Homo sapiens: one gene and its partners. The protein of the gene in region 3 interacts with the protein of the main gene of each other region in a pairwise test. Each region holds a gene or a part of one and is shown on either strand. Other genes may lie near its edges. The genes, in order: GIGYF1, SLC25A48, CCDC57 and ARID5A.

Region 1 (7,033 bases), on a different chromosome or scaffold from region 3:
CCCCCATACCTGCTGACCAGCTGGAGAAACTGCTGGTGCTGCAGCTGCTGGTACAAGGCCGCCGCGGCCAGCTCCTGTTGCTTCTTCAGCCGCTCCTGGTCCATGTTTCCCTGCTCAGGTGAGAGCTCGGCCAGTGCCCCCAGCAGGGAGGAGGGGACTCTGCTGGACTCCTGCCGGCACCCCTCACACCCTGTCCCTCCATGCAGGGGAGAAGCGGCTCACCAGCAGTGGGGGAGGTGAGGGCCCTGGGGCAAAGGGCACGCGGCCCCACATCTTGATCACCTCGCCCAGCGGCTGGAAGCCCTCATCGCAGCCCCGCTTCACCAGCAGTGACATGGAAAAGTAGCCGGCCTGGAACCACTCTGCCATCTCCTGTGTCGTGAAGGGGCCTGGACAGGGAGCGAGGGAGCGGGAGAACCACTGGGGTCACAGGGTATGCCAGAGACACCCTGAACCAGAACGGCCTTGAGCAGCCCTCCCATCCCACACAGGTACCTTGGATCTCGCCCTGTGGGTCCTTGTAGAACCACTTCCGGGCAGCCCCATGGCTGAGCGGGAGGGCAGTGGCGGCTGCAGAGTGGCGCAGGCCCTGGGTCTGCATGGCAGCCGTGAACTGCTCCTCCTCCAAGGAGCTGTCCTGCAGGGAGGCCACCAGCTTCTCCGCCTCCTGGATGCCCAGAAAAAGAAGAAAGGCTCAGCTGCCAATCTCAGCAACATCAGGATGGGGATGGGGATGGAGCTTGAGCTGGGGCCGGGGCTGGGGCCAAGCAGGTCAGGTCAGAAGTGGGAAGGGTCCCTCCCGCTTTCTCAGGCCCCCACACCTGCTGCAGGTGCTTCAAGCCTTCATCATCCTCCAGATCTCCGGGTGGGCCAGCAGAGGAGCCCACCCCGGGACTCAGCTGGATCCCCCGAATATCATCTGGAAGGCATGAGATAGGAGGTGGAAAGAAGGGCGGGGAGGAGACAAGATAGCTTTCGCCTACTCTCACTCCAGAACACCACGCTCTTGCCATGGCTCCTCAATGTGAATGCCCTGTGTGCCCACCCCCACGAGTGGGGAGCACTTTCTCCCACAGCCCCAGCGCACCCGGGAGGTAGGCCATCCTCCCTTCCTACCTTCGGCCGCTGGGGGCTCTTTCTCTGCAGTTTCGTCCCCATCCCCGTTTGTCCCCCAGAGTGGGCCCAGGGTGGGCAGTGGGGATGGGGAGCTGGACTTCTCCTCCTGAGGAGGCAGTGGGGTCAGCTCTTTCCCACCTAGAAGAGGGAGATGGCCAGAGTTCAGAACCAAGGGCTGGGCCTGCCACGCGAGTTAGCACAAGCCCTTGAGTGTGGCTGGAACCGCGGGTCACACTCCCTTAGGCCGAGTCCACCACTTCACTTGGGTCAACTCAACTAATGGCAGAGGGAATGCGGTGCCCTGACCCTCGCCTCCACGCTGCCAGACGCGGCAGGAACATATCACAACATCGCACAACACCACACAACACCGCAGACGTCACTCCAGGTTCTACAGCTTCTTCAAGGGACTTTCAAAGGTCATTTTGATTACGCCTGATTTCTATCTGGTACACTGCCTTGAAGACATGGCTCTGCTACCCCCTGGTTCCTCCCCACCTCTCAGCACTCTTCTTCCAGATCTAAGTAGCCTGATTCTACAGGTAGGTGGGCAGCCAATGCCCAGCCCGGCAAAGAACACCAGTGCCTGCCCGGCCCAGCCCCAGGCCCGCTGGGCACCCCGCGGCTCACCTGCCTCAGGCCCTTCCTCCTCTAGCCCTTCGGAAGGTTCCTCCTCCTCCTCCAACCCTTGGAAGTCCAGCTCCTGCTCCTCAGGAATGGGCTCCTTGGGGCCCTTCTGCATGGGGCCGGGGTGGGGAGCAGAGAACAGCTGGGGTGGGTGGGGAGGAAGAGGACCCCGGAAGGGCAGGTTCCCACCCTCGCCTCCTCACAGATACCTTGAGAGGCAAGAAGGCCCCAGAGGCATCAAAGGTGCCCATTTCTTCATCCTCATCGTCCAGGCACCACTCTGGGAGCCCATCCTTGTCCTCCTCAAAGCCTTCAGGCGCTCGGCACCGCCGCAGGTGAGAGCTGCCTCCCCCTCCCCGCCCCTCCTCTTCACCACACCCTCCTCGATCCCCTCGCAAATCAAATTCAAACTTGCGCCGCCGTTCCCCATGTTCCCGCCAGCCAGCAGAGCGGGGACCACCATCTGCACAGGAAAAGTCAGGGAGAAGAAGAGTGGGTACCCAAGCGAAGCCAGCGGCCCCCTCTGCTGCAGCTCACGGAGCACCTCCAGGGCTGCTGTCCCGGCCACTCCCACACCAGCCAGCCTCTGCTCCCTCCCCGTGGCTACAGGAGCCCACCCTCTCATTACAGTTCCTGCTCCCCACTGCCCCCGCCAATGCTACCAGGCCCCAATCTCACCAGGGCTGGCGGAGCGCCAGCGGTCGCCGTCTCGCCGGGGCCCTGCTCCGAGCCTCCAGCTGCCCTCCTCCTCCTCCTCCTGTTCCTCCCGTAGGGAGCGCCAGTTCTCGCTGTCTGAGCGGGCGTGCTCCTTCCTTGGGCCAGCCCCTCCCTCCTCAAAGCCACATCGTGCTGGGAGACGGGAAGACAGGGGCAGTTATTAGAAAGGCAGCGTGGTGCCTGGACCCTCAAGAAACGTTGGGGGGGCCAGCTCCAGGCCCTCCTGCCCCCAACACCTCCGAAATAAGCACCCCCAGACTGGGCCACCCATCTTGGTCCTCCCTGCCGCCCCGGCCGCCGCCCTCAGCAGCCTCGTACCTCCATCCCGCCTTGCTGACTTCTCAAACCGCCTCTCGCCTCTGCAGCAGGGGAAACGTGTGGGTCAGAAACAGTACAGCCTCCCCTGCCACCCTGTGCAACCGCCCCATGCCTTGTCCACTGTGCCCTGAGGCAGTGGAGGGAGGAAGGGGACAAACGAAACCAGGGGTCAGGAGCACCGGGATCTCGGACAGGGCTTATCTGGTGGGCCTCTGTTACCCTCTAGCGACAGGGCCCAGGCCTCCCCTCCCTGGCCTGCCCGGCTCTGCGCCATGCCCCCTCCCCGCCCCACCTGTCATCCCAGCTCTGGCTGCGCTGGATTTCCCGGGGGCTTCGTCCAAAGGCCCCATCGCCTTCTTCGATGCTTCTTTGGTAAAAGCAGCTGTCACCACGGCCGCGGCCTAGAGAAGAGGCCAGACGCACAATGAAACCTGCTGCACGTTCTCGAAGTCAGGGGCCCAGATCTGCCCGTCCCCAGGACACGCCATCACCCCTCTACCTCGGCTCCGCGTGCTGCCCCTGCCTCGGGAGGTGCCAGCCAGGGGGGGGCCAGCCCCTTTCCCCATCAGCCTCAGCACAGCCACGCTGTTCACTGACAGGGAGAAGTTTCTCTGAGGAGGGAGCCAGGGGCGGGAGTGAGGACCCAGGCACCCAACCACCTCCACCCCCACCCCACAGCACCCTCCCCGCCTGTCTCCTCAGCGCTGGCCCCTCTCCTCCTAACCCAACCCATGGCCTCCCCTCCCAGGCTCCCGCAGCCTCAGCTCCTGGCCCGGTCCCACCTGTTCCTCCTCAGTCAGCGGCTCCAGAGCCAGGGGCTGCAGTGGCTCGTCCTGCAGCACCGCGGCGAACTCCTTGTCCTGCAGCTCTTCCGGGACCTGGCAGTGGGTTGGGACAGCCAAGACACCACATGCTGCCAGATCCCCTCCACAGGCAGAGGCCACCACCGCCAACCCCCCTCGCCCACGCACCCACCTTGTTCTCCTTGACGTAGAGAGCCAGCATTTCCTCTCGCCCATAACGGTAGTCAGCCAGCTTGTATTTGGGCATGGCAGGGGACGGGGGTGGGGAGGCCACGCTGCCGCCCCCGGACAGGGCCCTGAGCCTGGACACAACACAGAGAGAAGAAGACAGAGGTCAGGGCAGCCTGACTGTGCTTTCTCGAATCTCCACGGCAGCCGAGGCACAAGTGACTCACCACTCAGGCCCAAAGTTGAGTGTCTCTGCTGCCATCGTGGGGCTGGGCGTGTTTGAGAGGCCGGGGGTGGGGAGGAGGGGACCTGGCGTTCACTGTCCAAACACCTGTGGGGGAACAGGGGCCATGAAGAACAGCACACGAAGGAGAACTTTAAAGCGCAGGGAGGACACCATGGGGGACATCCTAGTGGGCACAACAATGGGCCCCGGACTAGCTGGTGGGTCACCTGGGGTCTAAAAGGACTCACCTGAGCCAGCCACGTGGCCACTCACACCATGAGTTACCCAGAGATGAGTCCAGACGGTGAAAGACCTGGGGGAGGCGAGGAGATGGGAAGCTCGAGTCCTTTCGGCCTCAGCAGGGCAACCACCCTTGGCCCGGGGCTCACCTGGCAGCCTGGCCCGGGAAGAAGGAGGGCAGGGGCTGGTGCTGGAGTGAACGAGGGTACCCAAGCCACTGGGAATTGGTCTGACCTCAGTAGAGCCTGGGAGGGACCTTCACATCTGGGAAAGACCCTTAAGGAGAGCAGGGGGGAGGAGGGAGGGTTCAGGACATGGCTCTGCCGGCAGCCCTGCCCTGCCCCGCATGACAGGAGAGGTCCATTCGCCGGATGGTGTCTCTGGGCATCAGCACCCTCGCCACCCTCTCTGGGAGGCTGAGACAGGAGGTGTAGTGAAGAACTCGGGGAGGGAGGCAGCCGAGGCCAGGATGGACGTTCAGGGCAAAGATAAAACAAAAACAAGCAAGCAAACAAAAACCCACTAGAGCCACAAATAGCTTACAGAGAAAAGGTCAGTTACGGAGAAAAGGATTAGAAATAAATCTAGGAGCAAAATTCTTTCCCTCATGAAAAAAATCAGTTGGCTGCTCAGAAGCTCAAATCCAGGGGCTTGGTCTGGGGAGAAACCCAGTGAAAAGGAGCAGGAGGTGACTCTAGGGCCACAGACGGGTACACGACAAGGACTCCAGGCAGGCAAGCCTGAGCCAAGGCACCTCGGGCTGGTTTCCCCCACAGGAATCACACCCAGACCACCGCCCCCAATCAATAATGGAGGCTTAAACAACCAAGCCACCAAGGGAACGAGGATCTCAGGATACCAGCTGGGAAGCAGCCTCTGGCACCATCAGGTGGAAATAAGGTCAGGGCAATGGAGGCTGATGGGGGCGCGGCGGCAGCCTGTTCCTCTAAGGGAGGATGGAGGGGACTTTCAGGAGGAGGCGCATCCCTGGGGCCCCAGGCAGAGGACTCAAGCGGGTGGGCGGGGTCCAGGTGCTGCGGTGTTGTCACTGGCTGGGAGGGAGGCTGGCCCGGCTTGGTGCTGCAGCTCCCATCAACTCCAGGACGCCACAGTCTGGGAAAGAAGAGGAAGCGGGTTCAACCAGGGTGCTGAGGAGGAAAGGCCATCAGCCCCAGCTGAGCCAGCAGCCCATGACAAGCCGAGGCCTGCTCAGAGTCCAGGCACTCCAGGGGGAAACACCGGGCTCAGAGGCAACCCAAGGCCAGGCTGGCCTCCCCTGGGACCTCTCCTTCCTCTGCCTCGGCTGGATGCTCCAGTGGTGGTGTGTTCCATGACATGAAAAGCCACCAGCCTGTCACTGACTGCAGGTGGCCACCTAGAGCAATCTGGGGACTGGATGAGCCTTGAGGACATCACGCTAAGAGAAACACACCAGCCAAAAAAGGAGAGCTACCCCTTACTTCTCTTTCATGAGGTCTCTAGAGCAGTCACTCATTGAGGGAGGAAGGTAGAAGGGCAGCCACCAGGGGCTGAGGGGACAGGGAGCTGTTGCTGAAGGGTCCAGAGCCTCAACTGAGGAGGGGATCCTGGGGCCGCTGGTGGTCATGGCCGCACACCAATGTGAGTGTACTTAGTAACACAGAATGGCACAATTAGAGACAGTTAAAGTCTCCAAATTTTGTTGTATATTTTACCACAATAATCATTTTTTTAAAAAAGCTTTAGGGAACAAAAGGTATCTGGAGATAACCACCGCATACCTAAGTTTTCCCCACTCCAAGAAAAACACCCCACATTCCTTCAAATCAGCCTCAGGAGAGGCCATTTTGGGCCTCCTCCAGTTCATTCCTTCTAGAAGGCCAGAAGCTCATCCTGGAGGCATGAGGGTGGGAGAGAGTAGAACAGAAAAGGGACCACCTGGCCAGCACAATGGCTTATGCCTATAATCCCAGCACTGTGGGAGGCTTGAAGAGAGGAGTCCGAGACCAGCCTGAGTAACAGAACAAGACCACGACTCTACAGAAACAATTCTAAACATTTTTTAAAAAAGAAAAAGTGGCCAGGCGTGGTGGTTCATGCCTGTAATCCCAGCACTTTGGGAGGCCAAGGCAGCCAGATCACCTGAGGTCAGGAGTTTGAGACCAGCCTGGCCAACGTGGCAAAACCCTGTCTCTACTAAAAATACAAAAATTAGCCAGTCCTGGTGGTAGGTGCCTCTAATCCCAGCTACTCGGGAGGCTGAGGCAGGAGAATCGCTTGAACCCAGGAGGCGGAGGTTGCAGTGAGCTGAGATTGCGCCCCTGCACTCCAGCCTGGGCAACAGAGCAAGACTCTGTCTCAAAAAAAAAAAAAAAAAAAAATTTAAAGCGATGGCCTCACACTGCCCCCTGCCAGGCGCAGCAAGGGCAGCTCTCCTAGGTGCCTCCGGCTCAAGTCACCCATCCTGGCTGTGTCTTGGCTGCAAGGGGCACACAAAGGGGGAATGGTTCATGCAGACTGAGGACAGCGACACCAAGACAGGGGAGAGAGCAGGCCCAGAGCAGGAAAAAGCCCATGCCACCCGCCTTCTTGGGAAGAAACCAGGAGAGTGAGGTTAACTCTCTAGGCACCCCCACAGCAGGGTCTGGTGCCGGAAGCTGATGGTGCCTGGCCCCTTCCTTGGACTAAAGGAACTAGTGGCACACCTGCAGGCCACCATGGGGCTCCCACCCTCCAACAGGTTCTGGACTGGGGGCACCTCTGCTCCTCAGGGGGCTCTTGGCCAAGTCTAGAGACATTCTGGGTTGTCACCACTGGGCAGGGGGTGCACAGGGCAGCC
Region 2 (7,033 bases), on a different chromosome or scaffold from region 3:
GGCCCTTCTGGCTATGGCTCTGTTTCTCTGTTCCTCATTACAGCATAGCAGAACCCTCAGAAGAGTTGTGTATACTTGGGTGCACCAATATCCTTCATCCCATTCTTTCTTTATCCCACTTCATCAGGTTTTTACACCCTTCTCTCCATCAAATGGCCCTTGCCAAAATCCCCAGTGGTCTCCACGTTGTTAAATTCAGGAGGTGGTGAGTAGCAGGTACAAAGGCCCTGTGGTCAGGGAAGGGCCAGGCATGGTCAAGTTGCAGCAGAGACCAGTGTGACTGGAGAAAGTGAGGAAGGGGAGAGGAGTAGAAGTGAGGTGGGTGGGGAACAGGGAGCTAGATCACTGAGGGCCTGGAAAACCATTGCAAAGATATCAACTTTTACCTTAAATGAAAGAAGGATGTGGTGCAGGATTCTGAGCAGGGAGGTTAAGCAACAAGTCCATGGTCACAAAATGATGAAGTGTGGATTTGAACTTAAATCTTTCTGACTGCAGAGTCCTGCTATACTGTCAGCTCCAGCTGTATGACCTGGGATTGGCTACTTAACATTTCTGGACCTGAGTTTTCTCATCTGTGAAATGGGGAAACCGATTCCTACCTTGTAGAACTAATGGCATCCTTACATTACAAAGATTGCATTTAATAAACTGAACCATGATAATGGATTTCCTTTCCAAAGCTTAGTAATGCCTGACACAGAGTATGTGTTCAAAATATATCTGTTGCCTGAAAGTCAAATGGGAACTGCCATTCTCATAGCTGCATAGGGAAGGGATGAGACTGAGGTGGGAGAGGGCCGGGGACAGAGTAGGTACCTAACAAAGAATTGTTGGGTGAGTACCTAAATGTGTCCTGCCCTCCCCCTGGGCTGAGAAGGGCATGGCAGTTCCCCAGCTGTCCCACTGCTGTGGCCTGCACAGGGGTGCGGCTCCAGCTGCTGCTGCCCTTACCTGCCATGCCGCCCGCCAGCCACACGGCACAGGGGCTGGGGCCTGTGCAGGCCTCAGGTGTGATCCACTCACTCAGGAACACGTAGGGGATGAAGTAGAGGCAATAGCCTGGGACATCCCTCAGCAGCATGGCACTGGCCCCCCGGTATAGCCCCGCCAGGCCCTCATTCCTCACAATGGTTGTAATGCAGTGCACTGGCCCCTGGTATGCTGGCTGCTCCGCAGGAGCCACTGCCCTGGACTTCAAACCGAGGTTGGCTGCAAAGACAGGGGAGAGAAGGTGGCAAGTGACCCAGGGTGTAAGAGACTGGACATTCCGTGACACTGGAGCCAGCCCAGCCCTTTGACAGTTCCCTCTCATGTAGCCCATCAGCTTTTACCAAATCTGACCTTCTTGGCAGCTCAAACCAGGATACTGAGGTCCCAACAAGAGCCCCTGCCAATATACACAGCCAGACTGGGGACGATCTCAGCCACGTGATAGAACACCAGTTACTTTAGGTCAATACCACTACTTCTTTCGAAGCAAATGTGACTTCAGAATGTCTAGAATCAATTATGACAAGCCACACTAAGCTCTTCTTTGAAGCTAGAAAATCCAACATGCTGTGTGTGTGTGTGTGTGTGTGTGTGTGTGTGTGTGTGTGTGTGTGTGTGTCTGTGTACACATTTATTTATGCACAGTGTGGCGGAGCAAAATGTATATGAGATTTGGAGCCAGACTGTCCTGGCTGCAAATCCTAGCTCTACCGCTTATTGAAAATAATTTATAAATTATACATAAAATTTAAAATCTATAATTTAATATTTATAATTTTATAAAAATAAAATAAATAATTTTATTAAAATTATTTGGAAATAATTCGAAATTTACCTTGGCAAGGCAGCATTTTCAGCCCATTTCCTTATGTTAAAAGAGGGGGAGCTTGTCATGAGTGCAAATAAGGTAATACATGTACAGTGTTCAGCATGGTGATTTGAACATTGTAGGGGCTTAAAACGTTATCAACTGAGACCAAGGTTGCTGACATGAATTGGTGGCAGGACCCACAGGTTGGAGAGCTGGGTATATTCTCAGTGACTCACTCCAGCCCTGGCCAGGCTGTGCCCTAAACAGTTGTAGGGCAGCACTGGGGCTCTTGGCCCCTCAAAGTCCTGGGACCCAGGGCTGCTATCTTCTTGTCTAACCTCAGTAGTCTATGCTGGCAGCTCAGGGGTTGTTTGTCTCCAGCTTCTTCTAGGGGTGCACATAGCCAGCTGAGACTCTGCCTCTCTCTCATTTGCTACCCATCTCCCACTCTGATGCTTGTCTTCTCTGCTACGGACCCTTCTCTGCTATGGATCCTTCTCTACTATGAGGCTTTGACTCATGACCAGACAGAACTTCCAGACCCAGTGCAGATAAAGTAGGCTCTTGTTCTTGACTTTCCCTTCTCCAGGAAATAACATAATGTGACATGACCAGGAAAGAAATAGAATAAAGTGTGTCTGCGACCACAAGCCTATTTTGCCACCTGAGTTTAATTCTCTGTACAGTGTTCCAATCTGATTTTACACATGCTGGTAAACAGGCAGACAGCTTTCATCATATAGGTCAATGTCCAAGTCCCCCAAACAGTCCATCTTTATCAGAGGAAAGGTTAGAAGCATTCGGCTTCATGACTCCACAGTCTAGAGATTGGAGAATAAAGTGTAATCTGTACTTTAACTCATCCCAGAAGCAGGTGAGGTTGAGGGGGTGGTTTCTGCGTGCCTGGGAAGTATGCTTGAACAAACCCATGCTGTATTTTCCATCTTCCAGTGGGGAAGGGAGTAAACCCCTGCCATATCCATTAGGCCAACTTCAGTGTGGACAGGAGATGGAGCCAACTTCTTCCACAGTGGATCCCATAGGAGGTGAGCCGGGGTAGTAGCCACCTTTGGGGGCACAAGACCCCTCTGAGCAAGATCAGACATGATGGCCTTTGAAAGCCCACTGAGAGATCACTAGGCACCCCTTCCTCTTCCAGACCCATGGTGCTACTGCCTGGTTCATCTGGAGAAATTCTGCCGTTAGACAGAATAGATGTCATTGTCCCAATGTATAAATTTTGCCTGAACTGCTTTCATCTCCAGGCAAAACTGACTTGACCCAGGAGTCAAGGTTTTCATGAAGCAACTATGGGTAAATAGTGGCTTTCAGGAGTTACTGACTGAGGGAGAGGATCTTGATAACATTCTGCTTGTTTGAAAGTACAGATGGGAAAACACCCACCAAACCTCCAACTGGCCTTGTCAACAAAAATCCTGTACTGTTTTCCTTTTCCCTGCGGAGTAAGCAATAAGGAAATTCTCTCTCATTCTCCCAGGTTTGCCACATAACCAATCTAGCTTTTATTGCTTTGGAATTACCCATTTATGGCTGTTAGTGCAGTATAATTATCATGGTGACTCCCATCACCAGGATACTGACACAGCTCCAAACTGACCCAAGTTTATACTGTGAAGCTCTTGGAATTCTTTCTAGCTCCTTCATTCACAATATTTTTTTTTGAAAAAACTTTTTATTTGGAAATAATTCTAAATTTGCAAAAGAAGTATAAAAAGCAAAATAGTATAAAGAATGCCCATACATACAATTTACCCAGATTTATCTATTGCTAACAATAAGCAAATAAGCTCATTTGCTTATTGTTTGTGGGTTCTCTCTCCCACTCTCTTCACTTCCCTCCCTTCTCACTCGTGTGTGTTCAATTCAACTGAATCGATATAATTGTCCCAGTGTCTAAACTTTGCCTAAGCCCCATTCATTTCCAGGTAAGAGTGACCTGACCAGGAGTCAAGGTTTTCATGAATCAGCTATGGGTATGATGTGGCTTTCAGGAGTTATTGATTGAAAGAGGGGATTCTGGTAACATTGTGTCTGCTTGGAGGTGCAGATGTTGCAAAAACACCTGTCAAACCTTGAACTGACTTTGGCAACAAGACCCAAACTTATCCTTTTTCTTCTTTTCTTCCCAAGGTAAGCAATAGGGAATGTGTGTGTGTGTGTGTGTGTGTGTATGTGTGTGTGTGTGTATACACATAGATGTATTTTTACACATTCATACATAACTTCATTTTCTAAACTATTTCTGGGTGAGTTACATACTTGAAGAGTCTTTACCCCTAAATATGTTGAAAAATATTTCCTAAGAATGGAGATATTGTCTTATATAACTATAGCACAATTACCAGTTTCATATAGCTACTTTGACAATACTTTAATCTACCATCTATGATCAAATTGTCATTTGATCTTCATGCATGCCCTTTATAGCATTTTCCCCTCCAGGACAGGATCCAGTGCTTCAATCTGGAACATTTCCATAGCCTTTCTTTGTTTCTTGTGACACTGACATTTTTTAAGAGTACACAACCCCTCTGCTTGTTAATAGAGCTTTCCTGATTCGGGGTTTGTCTGACATTTCCTTATTACATTGTGGTCATGCATTCTTGGCTGGACCTCCTCCCCATTCTTAAGTCTCATTCTCAAAAGCCCCTGTTCTCCTCCTCTGGCCTCTTATTTTTGTTTTTTGTCAGTTTGTCTTTTAATTGAACTATACTTTGTATTCAATAAAAGGTAAAGCTTTCAAGTGCACGATTGATGAGTTTTTACAATTGCATTCACCTATGTCATCACACTCTACAATGGAAGTGACTTCTCATATTTGAAATAAACTGTTTTGTTTACAGCCCAGTTAGGGAGAGCAGTGATTCCACAGCCTAACTATCCTCTCCTGATTTTCAAGGTAAAACAACTCTGTGATATCATGAGGTGTCACTCATTGAGAAGCAACCTTTCTCTGGGGCAGTGGTTGTAACTTACAAGTCCATCAGCACTAGCACTACCAATAGTGGTATGGATGATTCATATTGGGTCCACAGAGCAGAATGTCATCAAAGGTAGTTATTATAATTCCAAGCATAAATATACCTGAGATAAAAATGCACCACACCACCACCATTGGTGAGGCCCAAAGTCCAACAAACCTAACATGATGATGCACTTATAGTAATACTGATTTTCAATTCAACAGCAAGAGTAGGAGCCATAGAAAACTATGACCAGTATAAGATAGCCCTGCTGATGAATAAACAGAAGAGCCTTCTTCTGGAAAACAGCAGAAATCTCCGCCAGTGGCCCATGTGGTGCTAAGTGCTCTCTGGCTTGTGGGGGTGGCAGAGCCGGGGGGTTGCCAGGAGCCTCAGCAGATAGCCTCAGGAAAACACTGGATCGGAGTTCTTGGTACTCTGATACCATGGGACCAATTTTAGTTTGTGAAAACCCAATTTTGATGACTCTTAAAAGCTGATTTGAAAAGTTACTGGTAAGTCAGTCTTGGAAATATGCACAACTGAGATCTCTGGACTTGCAAGTCCTTTGTCCAAGGAACCTGAGGAAGACTACGAGGTGCCGGATCAGGACACAGCTCACAGGAAACTGCCAACTCCCAGCCCATTGTTTCTGAACCTTCAGGGTGTACATGCATATGCGAAAGGATTGGCATTAGATATATATCCTTCTCAAGCGAAGTGTACCTAATTTCTCTAATTAGAATTTTTTATTCTGTAATGAGGATTAAAACATTAATCAAATTTTGATCTTTTTAAAATCATGAATGCTTTGCATTTGAGACCAACTTTTGCTGCCTCTCTAGATCAAGGGCATACTACCTTTTATTAGGATAGATATGGATTACGTACCTCAAAAACTGCTGCCTCTCTAGATCAAGGGCATACTACCTTTTATTAGGATAGATAGAGATTATGTACCTCAAAAACTCAGGAGGCATGTGGTTTCCTTCATTTCCCCAACTTCAGTTAGGGCTATCTCAGGCCCCCTGCACCTATGTAACCAAGACTAGCAAGATGTTCAAAGTCAATGAAAATAGCAACCCACTGCCGTAGGAAGTGGAGGAGGGCCCAGGCCTCCTGCCTTGTCCAGCTCAGTCCCGGCCAGCACACCTAAAGCCACAGGCCATGGCTATCTGGCTCTGCAGCTCTCTGTGAAGTGCCAGTGCCTTACTGCTGGCCTCCTGTTTGGCCTGGGAGGTCCCTTAGAGGTAGATGCCTCTTCAGGGAGTTTTATTTTGGGGTGTGGTGGTTGTAGGTCCAGGTTTGGCCAATCCTAACAGGTACCAATACAGCCATCTCTTAGGGGACATCCAACTTCAGAAGGGCTGAGCTGGGCTGGACACAGACAGGAGACACCAGCTCTACCACTATTGCCCCTTTTCCAGAACCCAGGGACCCAGCCACAGAAAGTCACTGTGCCTTCCTCAGACACAAACACAAAGATGTTCCATTTATTTTCCTTTCTCAGTCAATGCTATTCAATGTCTTCAATGGGCCATGACCTTGGAAACAGTAAGGCCAGCAGAAACACAATGGCTGGCCACTGAGGGGAGCAGGGCTGGCCCTCAGGAGCACAAAGGCCTGGCCACTCTCTGGAAGGGAAAGTGCTCCCAGCCTCCTCTGCTGTGTGGGTATGTCGGTATGTGGGTGGTGGGACAGGGAACACAGCATAATTTCTCAAGAGGCCACTTTCTACAGAAAATCCTTCACAAATCAGCCATCCACAAATGAGGCCCTATGGGTCACTAGTCAGGGATGTGTGGGTTTTCACGAGGGTTCTATTCCAGTAAGGCTCAGCCAGTGGGAGTCATTTCAAGGCACCCCACAATCCATGAGCATTATGCATTGACAGAATTCCTACAATGTCTCACACATACATATGTGCCCATTTTTCTCATATGTGTGGGTACTATCACAGGTAACACAATAAGATTTTACTTAAACATATTAGTAATCCATAGTAGCTTCCTTACATATTTGTTTTCTTAGTCCACGAACTCTTAAAAGTACAGCTGCTGTTCGATGGGTTGGACCACATTTTCCATATTAACAAGGCGCTCTTAGAAAAAGGTCCCCACAGCCCATGCCTGAGGCTGTGCCCCCTAGTATGGCTTGCCTCTGTTGCTACTGTTTTCTGAGTGTGTTGTTTTGCCCTTAGTGTGGCGGTGAGTTTCCTGATGACAGGAATCATACACTATGGCCC
Region 3 (3,906 bases):
TCCACCAGCTTCAAACCTCCAAGCCGGGCTTGGTGGCCCACACCTGTAATCCCAGCACTTTGGGAGGCCGAGGTGGGTGGATCACGAGGTCAGGAGATCGAGACCATCCTGGTTAACATGGTGAAACCCCGTCTCTATTAAAAATACAAAAAACTTAGCGGGGCGTGGTGGCGGGCGCCTGTAGTCCCATCTACTCGGGAGGCTGAGGCAGGAGAATGGCGTGAACCCGGGAGGCGGAGCTTGCAGTGAGCTGAGATCACGCCACTGCACTCCAGCCTGGGCGACAGAGTGAGACTCCGTCTCAAAAATAAAAATAAAAATTTAAAAAACCCTCCAAGTATGGTGCAGCCGCCTGAGGGGACGGAGCCCAGCCTGGGTGGCCCTGCCTCAGCACACACCAGGACCTGGGAGGGGTTAAGCCTGGGAGGGGCAAGCAGGCCCCAGTCCCCCTCCCCTGGTTAATCACTGCAAGGCCTTGGATGTTTCAGGAACTTTCCAGAAGCTCAGTTCGGGGCCAGAGCACAAGCAGCCCGTGGGGGAGGGGTGCAGGACCCAAGAGGCGCGTTCCTCACGCTGTGCCCGGCAAACTGTGTGTCCACATGGTTTCCCTGCGGCCCAGTCAGCCCAACGCAGAAAGAGAAATCCCGGCCAGGCTCGGCAAAACAGGTCAGGCGAGAAGGCGGGGCAGAGAGTGGTGGAGGCCAAGAGCGTTTTTACACACCAGTTACTGGGTTGACCTCAGATTAGCATCAGGTAGAAGAATCCGGGGTCACAGGGAGTCACGCCTGGGGCAGCCGCCTTGACACATCCAGCTCCGTGCCTCTGACCTAGGACTGGCTGGGCTGGGGCTGTCCGCTGCCCTGGGGTCCTGGGCTCATGGCCAGTTCCCTGCCACCATCACTGAGGAGGGCTCCGCAGGAAAAGGACCAGTGAAGAAACCAGAGCCTGTAAAGTGGATATTCTGAGCTAGGGGCCGGCCTGCCCTGGGGAGGGGGCCAGCTCACCCTCCCTGCCCCTCCCTGCCCCTCCCTGCCCCGGGGACTGTGACCCACTCACACCTCCCTGCTTCGCCCCGGGATACAGCCAGGGTCCTCCCAGCAGGGCCAGCTCAGGCCTCCCAGGCAAAGGGGCAGGCCCTTCACCCCCCTCCCTCAGCTCACTTTTTCTGAAAATCCCCACAGGCTTTGTCTGAGGAGGATCAAGCCGGGCAAAGCCCCCAGAATCCCTGAGCATTACAGAGGGACAACCAAGGCCTCTGGGTTTGAGGAGATGCCTCAGGGTCACAGTGGAGCACTAGGGCCTGGTCAGAGGACCAGCTTCCCCGCAGGAAGCCCTTTCCACGGGATACCCCACCCTCTGCCAGCCAGTGTGGGGGGTGGGGGGAGGGAGTGGGGATGGGGGCGTTGGCCGGGACCAGGAGGTCAGGCAGGCTTATTGTTGAGAGATAAAGGGTGGTAGCCTTTGTGTGAAGAGGAGGAATTCCTCTGGGGGTTGGAAACAAAGGGAGCAGGCAGCGTCCAGGGCCCCCCAGGACCCCAGCAGGGGGCCAGGGACTGTGTGACCCCAACGGGGCTGCAGGAAAAGGAAGACTGGTTCCGGGTGTCTTGAGACCCCAAGAGTGGATCGGAGTGGAAGAAGCTGAGATGGGAAGAGGGGCCCAGGGCCAGGGCTGGGAGTGTGTGGCTGCCCCCATGGGCACTGCGCAGCCCAGCTGAGAGTGCGTCATTGCCGGTGTCCCCAAAGCACAGACGCTTCCCAGTCACCCAGGCTGCACGCAGACCACACAGGCTGGGCTCCAGCAGGAGGCGTTGGCCGCCCGCTGACCTGCCTGGGTCAGCCTGTCCAGACTGCCCACTGGGCCACATTCAGCCACGTGCTGGAGTCCTCTAGACCTCACCCCAGCCACAGTGTGGCCACGCAGTGGACGCTGAGCTCACATCTTACTGTGGGGTTTTTTTTGTTTTTTTTTTTTTTGAGATAGAGTTTGCCCTTGTCCGCCCAGGCTGGAGTGCAGTGGCGCAATCTCGGCTCACTGCAACCTCTGCCTCCCGGGTTCAAGCGACTCCGCTGCCTCAGCCTCCTAAGTAGCTGGGATTACAGGTGCCCGCCACCGTGCCCGGCTAATTTTTTGTATTTTTAGTAGAGACGGCGTTTCACCATTGTTGGCCAGGCTAGTCTTGAACTCCTGACATGAGGTGATCCACCCACCTCGGCCTCCCAAAGTGCTGGGATTACAGACGTGAGCCACCAAGCCCAGCCCTTGCATGGATTTTTAGTAACATTTTGCTGTTGTTTTACCAAAAAAAACCCCCACATTCTTAATTGAAAAAATGAAAAATAGAGAAAAACTGGCCAGATAAAGAAGATCACCTACAACACCCCTCTGCGAAGATGGTTTTAGCCGATGTTTAGGAAGGGCTATCTGGCATTTAGGCCCCAGCCTCTGTGTGTAGCGCACTCCTGGGCCCTTGGCCTGTGCCTGGCCACGTGGTGCCCACCAGCACGGCCTTTCCTTTGGCCTCAAAAGCCTGGCACTGCTGGCCCATCGGGGAGGCGGGGGCAGGCAATGTGTCTCAGATGGTAGGGACACCCGGGGCAGCCTGGGGGGAGGAGCTTTGAGTCAACCATTTACCCCAGCACCCCTGCCCCCTCCTGGGACCCATTACCACACAGCACCCCTGCCCCCTCCTGGGACCCATTACGAAATGGTCACAACAGGACCATTTTCAGAGCCACATGTCCAGGTGCCCAGTGGAGGGGCAGGCCCAGTCCCTGCCAAGCAGGACCCACTGAGCAAGGCGAGGCCACAGCTCTCTGGTCACTCCAGGATCCTTTGGCCTTCACGGACTCCTGGAGGAAAGCCAGGCCAAGGGTCACAGGGCCCCCGCTGGCCGGGAACACGGAAGTGCTGCACCTGTGCAGTGCCTGTGAGCACAGCCTCCTGCTCCCCCTGCCATCCTGATGCATGCTGTTTTTTCCTCTTTACCTGACAGAGCTCCCAGCTCCTCCAGCAGCCGACAGGAGGCCCGTCAAGATGCAGGCAGGCATTGCCACCCCAGGGATGAAGACAGCAGCCCAGGCAAAGGCCAAGACCACAGGAGCCTCCCGGTCTCATCCTGCAAAAGCTAAAGGCTGCCAGAGGCCCCCCAAGATCCGTAACTACAACATTATGGACTGACTTCCTCCCCCCACCCCGCCCCACTAAGGGGTGCTCGGGGCCTCCGCATGGTGCCTGTGCTTTCACCTACGTGTTGTGGGGGGGTGTGGGCACAGCGTGCAGGGTGGAGGCAGGGAGCTGCAGGGCAGGCTCCCAAATGCTGCTGAGGCGACCCTGCTGACTGAAGGCCTCCCTGAGCACAGGGCCCATTAAAACCAGGTTCCTCCCTGGGGCGTCTGCTTGGCCTTAGCGTTGTTTATCTGTCCTACTTGGGAAATGCAGTATCAAGTGCCTGTGCCAGAGCCTGGCCTGCCCGTGTCACCACCCACAGCCATCTGCACACCAGTGGTGTTGGGGACAGTGTGGCCTTCCTCAGAGCCTGGTAGCAGGTAGGGGGCAGATCAGAAAGCCCACCCACAAAGCAGGCGTCTCCTGAGAGTACCATGGGAGGGGCCCTCCCAGAAGGAGTGAGAGCCTTGGATCCCAGTGAACCGGGCCAAGGTGACCCCTGGAAGCCAGGTGGGCACCTGGGCCTCATGCAGGTTGGGGTGTGCATGTCAGGTGCTGGCAGGGTGGGGGCCAACCGGGGACAGCGGTCACTGCTGGGCCTTCCACGTCCACCCCCACGAAGGATAACAGCAAAATGTCCCTGCCACCTGAGTGCCCGGGGCCAGGTACCTGCAAGGATGAGAAACGCACACGTAAACTGACGCCCGTCCGCCCGGAACACACTGCACTACCCCGCCAAA
Region 4 (7,033 bases), on a different chromosome or scaffold from region 3:
CTGCCCAGCTCTCTGACCAGCCCCCTCCCATCCCTGAGCCTGGATGCCTTAGCAGTCAACACAGACCTGCTCTTGTTAGCAGAGTGACAGGAGCGATGTGCTGGGAAACTGCACATCTACTTGGGGAAAGGGGACAAGTTTGCATCCTCTGAGCACAGATAAGGAACTTGAGGTCTCCCTGCTCCCATTAGAAAGAAAAAAATCTCTAGCTCTCAGGGATCAGCGTCTCTCAGGAGTCAGACTACCCTGGTTCTGAATCCCAGCTCTGCCATGGATAAGCTCTGTGGCCCCAGGCAAGTTACTGAACCTCTCTGAGCCTCAGACATTATATCTGTTATATCTGGATGGCTGGGAAGATTCAGCAATGCAATGTTGTATGAGATGCCTAGCCCACACCAGCCAGGGCACTGATTTGAGTCGGTGGAGCATGTAACTTGAGAACAAGTAGACCTATGGGAGCATCCTCTACTGGAGGCAGTGACAGACTAACATCTTCAGTGCTGGAGTTTTAGGATCTGGGAGTTGAGCTTGACTCAGACAGGAGCTATGGAGTTGGAAAGAAATCAGACTCATAGCACAGGAAGAGCCTCAGGCAATCCTCCTGCCCAGCACCCTGCCGCACCCCCTCTCTGCTTAGTAAGGGACTGGGTCACTAGGAGCCCAGGCTCATCTTCTGGCGCAGCCACCTAGCCTGCCTCGGCCCTCTTCCCAGCAGTGAAATGAGGAAATCGCAGGGGGGCTTTTGTGGAGTGAACTACTGTTATCAGGGTTTTTCTAACACCATTTTCTAGCTGCACAAAACTCAAGGAACAAACTAGGAATAAACCTCCCCAAGAAAGCACAGGGGCTTTTTAAGAAGGAACTTCTGAGGACTGCAGAGGGAAACCTGAATTATGGAGACACATGGTCCTGAAAAGAAAGATGCAATACTGTAAAGGTATTATTTCTCCTCAAAGTAGTTTCTAAATTTAAATGCAATCAAAGCCCCAGTAGTGGGGGTTTTTTGTTTGTTTGTTTGTTTGTTTTGGAGACGGAGTCTCTGTCACCCAGGCTGGAGTGCAGTGGCCTAATCTCAGCTCACTGCAACCTCCACCTCCTGGGTTCAAGCAATTCTCCTGCCTCAGCCTCCCGAGTAGCTGGGATTATTGGCGTGTGCCACCACGCCCACTAATTTTTGTATTTGTAGTGGAGATGGGGTTTCACCATGTTGGCCAGGCTGGTCTCGAGCTCCTTACCTCAAGTGATCTGCCTGCCTTGGCCTCCCAAAGTGCCAGGATTACAGGCGTGAGCCACCGCACCTGGCCTTTTTTTTTTTTGAGAAGGAATCTCGCTCTGTCGCCAGGCTGGAATGCAGTGGCGCGAGCTCAGCTCACTGCAACCTCCACCTCCTGGGTTCAAGCGATTCTCCTGCCTCAGCCTCCTGAGTAGCTGGGACTACAGGCATGCGCCACCACCCCCAGCTAATTTTTGTATTTTTAGTAGAGACGAGGTTTCACCATGTTGGCCAGGATGGTCTCGATCTCTTGACCTCATGATCTGCCCGCCTCGGCCTCCCAAAGTGTTTTTGTTTTTGTTTTTTTTTAAAGGGAATGTAACAGAATTATCCCAAAGTTCAAATGGAATATTTTTAAAAGATGAGTAATATTGGGCAACTTGCCCTCTGGATAGTAAGTTGTTTTATAAAGCTACAAAAATTAAAACAGTGTGCACAGGTCCTAGCATCCCACTGTGGATGAGACAGAATAGAAAGTCCAGAAATAGTCCCAGATGTGTTCCTTATAAGCACTGACATTATGGGGAAAGTAGCATTTTACACCATTGGAGGAGGAGGCTACTCACTGGGGCCCCCAACCAATGAGGGGAAAGTATGGCTAGGATCCCTATTTCATCCTGTATACTGGAATAGATTCCAGATGTGTTACAAGTGAGTAATGAGACAATAATCACCATCATCATCATTATTGCTTGCTGGATGGAGAAAGGTGAAGTCTGGATGACATTCTTATGGAGAGCAGTTTTCTTTTTTGCATTTGATCCCCCACTTCTGTTACAAATAAAACATGTAAGGCATTGTGCCAGAAAAGAATCTGCACACACAGGCTGGGAACAAGGCAGTAGTGCGGTGGCTCACAGCAGCAGCAGCAGCTATCAGGGGCAAGTGGGTTTCTCCTGCCTCTGTGGGCTGAGTGGGGCTGGGAGACGGGGCCTCCAGCTCCATAAGCCTTTTCCCTCCTCCACAGAGCCAGGAGAGGGCCCACCCCACCATGCAGGTCCTGCCTGCCTGGCTCCCAGCTCTCTACCTCCCAACGCTGGACCTGCATGGCCCAACATCTATGGCAGCGGGTTTCAAGCTTATTTTTTATAGCAGAACCCCTTTTACAAATATAACCCTGATCTGTGAATGATCAGGGAAAGGGAGGGATTAGGGCAGCCAGGGACAAGACAGAGGGCACCCTGGAGACCAAGGGGGAGAGGACTCTCCCTTCTTGCTCATCTAATGCTGCAGAAGAGGGGGCCCAAAGGCCTGCAACCCAGAGGGCCCTGGCAGGACAGAGCACTAACCCTGAGAATGGAGACCGAGTTCATCTGGGGACTCAGCTGGACACAGAGATAGAATGTTTCCCTTTGTGGCTTAAGGCGAACAGCTCTAATCCCTTTCCCATCTGGGGTTAAACAGCTCGGATTGGTGACCTCCTTTCCAGGTAACACGAGCACCCAACTCCAGGAGATTTTCCCCTGGTGTGGTCCAGGCAGAGCTTGCAAACTCTGAACCATGCAGAAGGGACTAGGGCCCCTCTCGCCCTGTGGCTCACAACCTGGCTGCCCACTGGGATGCCCTGGGGAGCTTTAAACCCTGCTGCCCCACCTTGGACCTTAAATCAGACTCTGAGGATGGGGCCGGAGCATTATGCTCCTCCAGGTGATTCTGATGGGCCCTGTCTAACCACTGTATTTTTCTGAAGCCCAAGGTGCAGCGACTTGCCAAGGGTCACATAGCAAGTCTGTGACTTAAGAAGCCCCAGTCACACCAAGGAAGACATGGAGAGGGTCTGTCGATGCTGAGGCTCTGGGGCAGCAGGAATGAGGGGAGGGGATGTGTGAGCTGAGGGTAGCAGGCAGTGGGAGAAGAGCCAGTGGAGGAGGTGCTTCTGGACCTGGAAGACTTCAGGAATTCACGGATAGCTAGCAAAGAACTCAAGGATCTTCCTCTCCCATTTCATAGCAGGGAAGACTGAAGCACAGAGTCACAGAGGACTTGGTTGGAAAGGCATCAGTCTGCTGGGTCACTTGTTAGTACCCAGGATTTCTGGAGACTGGTGGGTCAGAGGCTAGCCCAAGAGGGTGGCCCTGGTCTCTTTCTCTTTGACAAGCCTTAGGACTGGTTTCTCTCCAGGCTTACTTGGACTCTTCATGAAGGCCTTGCAAATGTTGATAACCACAGCAGCCACTGGACCAGAATCAGACTTTGTTTTGAATCCTGGTCCCCCAGGGAGGCAAGCAACTTACCCATAACCATTCTGGCTTCAGATTCCCCCTCTTTAAAATGGAATTCCTCCGGGACTGAGGGAGAGAATGTACAGGCACACCTTGCTCTATCATGCTTTGCTTTATTGTACTTCACAAATACAGCATTTTTTACTCATTGAAGGTTTGTGGCAACCCAGCATCGAGCAAGTCTATCGATGCCATTTTTTAACAGCACGTGCTCACTTTGTGTCTCGGTGTCACATTTTGGTGATTCTTACAACATTTCAAACTTTTTCATTATTATATCTGTTATGGTGATCTGTGATCAGTGATCTTTGATGTTCCTATTGTCATTGTTTTGGGGTACCATGAACCCCACCCACAAAGACAGTGAACTAAATCGATAAATGTTGTGTGTGCTCCTCCTCCACCTGCTCCATCGACCAGCATTCCCCATCTCTCTTCCTCTCTTTCTCTTCTTTGGCCTCCCTGTTGCCTAAGGCACAACAATATTGAAACTGGGCCAATTAACAGTCCTACAATGGTCTTTAAGTGTTCAAGTGAAAGGAGGAGTTACAGGTCTTTACTTTTAAATAAAAAAACTAGAAATAATTAAACTTAGTGAGGAAGGCAGGTCGAAAGCCCAGATAGGCCGAAAGCTAGGCCTCTTGCACCAGTTTGTCAAGTTGTGAATGCCAAGGAAAAGTTATTGAAGGAAATCAGAAGTGCTATTCCAGTGAACACGCATGGTAAAGCAAAACAGCCTTATTGCTGATAATGGAGAAAGTTTGAGAAGTCTGGATAGAAGATCCAACAAGCCATAACATTCCCTTAAGACAAAGCCTAATCCAGACCAAGGCTCTAAATCTCCAATGCTGTGAAGGCTGAGAGAGGTGAGGAAGCTGCAGAAGAAAAGTTGGAAGCTAGCAGAGGTTGCTTCATGAGGTTTAAGGAAAGACGCCATCACCATCACATAAAAGTGCAAGGCGAATCAACCAGGGCTGGTGTAGAAGCTGCAGCAATTTATCCAGAAGATCCAGCTAAGATCACTGATGAAGGTGGCCACACTACCACAGATTTTCCATGTAGATGAAACAGCTTTGTATCAGAAGAAGATGTCATCTAGGACTTTCATAGCTAAGGAGAAGTCAATGCATGGCTTCAAAAGACAGGCTGACTCTCTTGTTAGGGGCTAATGCAGCTGGTACTGGTGACTTTAAGTTGAAGCCTGTGCTCATTTATCATTCCAAAAAACCTAGAACCTTTAAGAATTATGCTAAATCTACTCACTCTGTGTTCTAAAAATGAAATAACAAAGCCTGGATGACAGCACATCTGTTTATAACATGGTTTACTGAGTATTTTAAGCCAACTGTTGAGACCTACTGCTCAGAAAAAAGGATTCCTTTCAAAATATTATTGTTCATTGACAAGGCAACCGGTCATGCAAGAGCGCTGATGAAAATGTACCAGGAGCTGCATGTTGTTTTCATGCCTACTAGCACAACATTTATTCTAGAGCCAAGGATCAAGGAGTAATTTTAAGTTTCAAGTCTTATTATTTAAGAAATACATTTTGTAAGACTGTAGCTGCCATAGATAGTGATTCCTCTGATGGGCAAAATACATTGAAAACCTCCGGAGAGCATTTCAGGTACATTTGTGGTTCGTGGGAGGAGGTCAAAATATCCAAGCATTTGGGAGAATTTGATTCCAACCTTCCTGGATGACTTTGAGGGCTTCAAGACTTCAGTGGAGAAGACACTGCAGATGCAGTGGAACCAGCAAGAGAACTAGAGTTAGAAAGCAGAGCTTGAGGATGAGACTGAATTGCTGCAATCTCATGATCAAACTTGAGTGGATGAGGAGTTGCTTTTTATGGGTGGGCAAAGAAAGTGACTTTTTTTCTTCTTTTTTTTTCTTTCCTTTTCTTTTCTTTTTCTTTTTCTTTTTTTTTTTTTTTTTTGAGACAGAGTCTTGTTCCATCGCCCAGACTGGAGTACAGTGGAGTAATCTCAGCTCACTGCAGCCTCCGCCTCCTAGGTTCAAAGGATTCTCCTGCCTCAGCCTCCTGAGTTGCTGGGACTACTGGGACCTGCCACCACACCCAGCTGACTTTTGTGTTTTTAGTAGAGACAGGGTTTCGCCACGTTGGCCAGGCTGGTCTCAAACTTCTGACCTCAGGTGATCCACCCACCTTGGCCCCCAAAGTGCTGGGATTACAGGCGTGAGCCACCGCGCCCATCCTAAAGTGGCTTCTTGAGGTGGAATCTACTGGCGAAGATGCTGTGAACATTGTCAAAATGACAACAAAGGATTTAGAATGTTACAGAAACTTAGTTGATAAAGCAGCAGCAGGGTTTGAGAGGAGGGACATCAGTTTTGAAAGTTTTGCTGTGGATAAAATGCTGTCAAAAATAGCATCACATGCATGCCATGGAGAAGTCTTTCATGAAAGGAAGAGTTGCCAGGTGCAGTGGCTCATGCCTGTAATCCCAGCACTTTGGGAGGCCGAGGTGGGTGGATCATGAGGTCAGGAGTTTGAGACCAGTCTGGCCAATATGGTGAAACCCCGTCTCTACTAAAAATACAAAAATTAGCCGGGCTTAGTGGCACGCACCTGTAGTCCCAGCTACTCGGGAGGCTGAGGCAGGAGAATCACTTGAACCTGGGAGGCGAAGATTGCAGTGAGCCAAGATCACGCCACTGCACTCCAGCCTGGGCAACAGAGCAAGATTCTGACTCAAAAAAAAAAAAAGAGTTAATGGATGTGGCAAACTTCATTGTTGTCTTATTTTAAGAAATTGCCACAGTCACCCCAGCCCAAGAAACCACCACCCTGAAATCAGTCAGCAGCCATCAACATGGAGGGAAGACATAAGAACACCTACCAAAGCAGGACCACTCAGTGGCCAAGGATTCTACCCTGTGCCTCTGAGTACCACTGGCCCCTGGCTTACGCTGGTTTGGGTTTCTTGTTCCTGAGGAGATTCTTTTTCTGTCTGGGATGGAAGGGAAATCTCATAGGTTCCTAACAATAAGGATGTCCTGGGAGGGAGTGAACCAATTCATACTTGATTAACAAAAGAACAAAGGACAGAAAGAAAAGGTTGTCAGAAGATGTGGGTTCCTGGTCTGGTATCTGCTGCCAGCCTGCTGTGTGGCCTCAGGCAGTTTCCAGTGGTTGTGGTTTTTGCAGTGGCAGAGGTGTTGCGTTTTTGCAACCATCAGCACATGGTGGTTCTTAGTAAAATACAGCCCATGGCTTCTCCTGCCCACCACGCAGGGTTGTTGTGAGCCTTGCTCATTCCAGCTTGGCACCTGCTGTGTGGGGTATGGGAAGCCTCACCGAACTATCAGGGAGCCCCAGGAGCCACAGGCAGTTCAGCCAGGATGGCTGTGAGTAGCCTAGGGCGAGGGAGGAGCTGCCCGTGGCCAGGGGCCAGAGGAGGCCACCCAGAGGAAGGCACTTGTCAGCAGAGACCTGAGGGGTCACCAGGACCCTTGTAGGTGAGGAGAGCATGTGGCCTTATTAGGGCAGTTAGAACTCTGCAGATGCTCAGGG

What was found.
Region 1: the proteins of CCDC57 (region 3) and GIGYF1 interact in binary tests that used the Homo sapiens proteins (3 or more experiments, as listed by UniProt).
Region 2: the proteins of CCDC57 (region 3) and SLC25A48 interact in binary tests that used the Homo sapiens proteins (3 or more experiments, as listed by UniProt).
Region 4: the proteins of CCDC57 (region 3) and ARID5A interact in binary tests that used the Homo sapiens proteins (3 or more experiments, as listed by UniProt).

What each region holds. Positions count from the first base shown.
Region 1 is NC_000007.14:100,684,228-100,691,260, forward strand, and holds part of GIGYF1 (GRB10-interacting GYF protein 1), read right to left. Parts: intron 5,329-7,033; 5' UTR 4,365-5,328; intron 4,289-4,364; 5' UTR 4,224-4,288; intron 4,081-4,223; 5' UTR 4,012-4,080; coding exon 3,977-4,011; intron 3,884-3,976; coding exon 3,754-3,883; intron 3,657-3,753; coding exon 3,561-3,656; intron 3,390-3,560; coding exon 3,278-3,389; intron 3,180-3,277; coding exon 3,071-3,179; intron 2,820-3,070; coding exon 2,779-2,819; intron 2,593-2,778; coding exon 2,422-2,592; intron 2,207-2,421; coding exon 1,953-2,206; intron 1,853-1,952; coding exon 1,747-1,852; intron 1,255-1,746; coding exon 1,117-1,254; intron 920-1,116; coding exon 822-919; intron 668-821; coding exon 496-667; intron 390-495; coding exon 223-389; intron 114-222; exon of another isoform or gene 111-113; coding exon 10-110; intron 1-9. UniProt on the Homo sapiens protein: May act cooperatively with GRB10 to regulate tyrosine kinase receptor signaling. May increase IGF1 receptor phosphorylation under IGF1 stimulation as well as phosphorylation of IRS1 and SHC1.
Region 2 is NC_000005.10:135,865,640-135,872,672, reverse strand, and holds part of SLC25A48 (solute carrier family 25 member 48), read right to left. Parts: intron 1,213-7,033; coding exon 955-1,212; intron 1-954.
Region 3 is NC_000017.11:82,100,954-82,104,859, reverse strand, and holds the end of CCDC57 (coiled-coil domain-containing protein 57), read left to right. Parts: intron 1-2,993; coding exon 2,994-3,178; 3' UTR 3,179-3,390; downstream 3,391-3,906. UniProt on the Homo sapiens protein: Pleiotropic regulator of centriole duplication, mitosis, and ciliogenesis. Critical interface between centrosome and microtubule-mediated cellular processes. Centriole duplication protein required for recruitment of CEP63, CEP152, and PLK4 to the centrosome.
Region 4 is NC_000002.12:96,539,741-96,546,773, forward strand, and holds part of ARID5A (AT-rich interactive domain-containing protein 5A), read left to right. Parts: exon of another isoform or gene 1-903; coding exon of another isoform or gene 904-937; intron 938-7,033. UniProt on the Homo sapiens protein: DNA-binding protein that may regulate transcription and act as a repressor by binding to AT-rich stretches in the promoter region of target genes.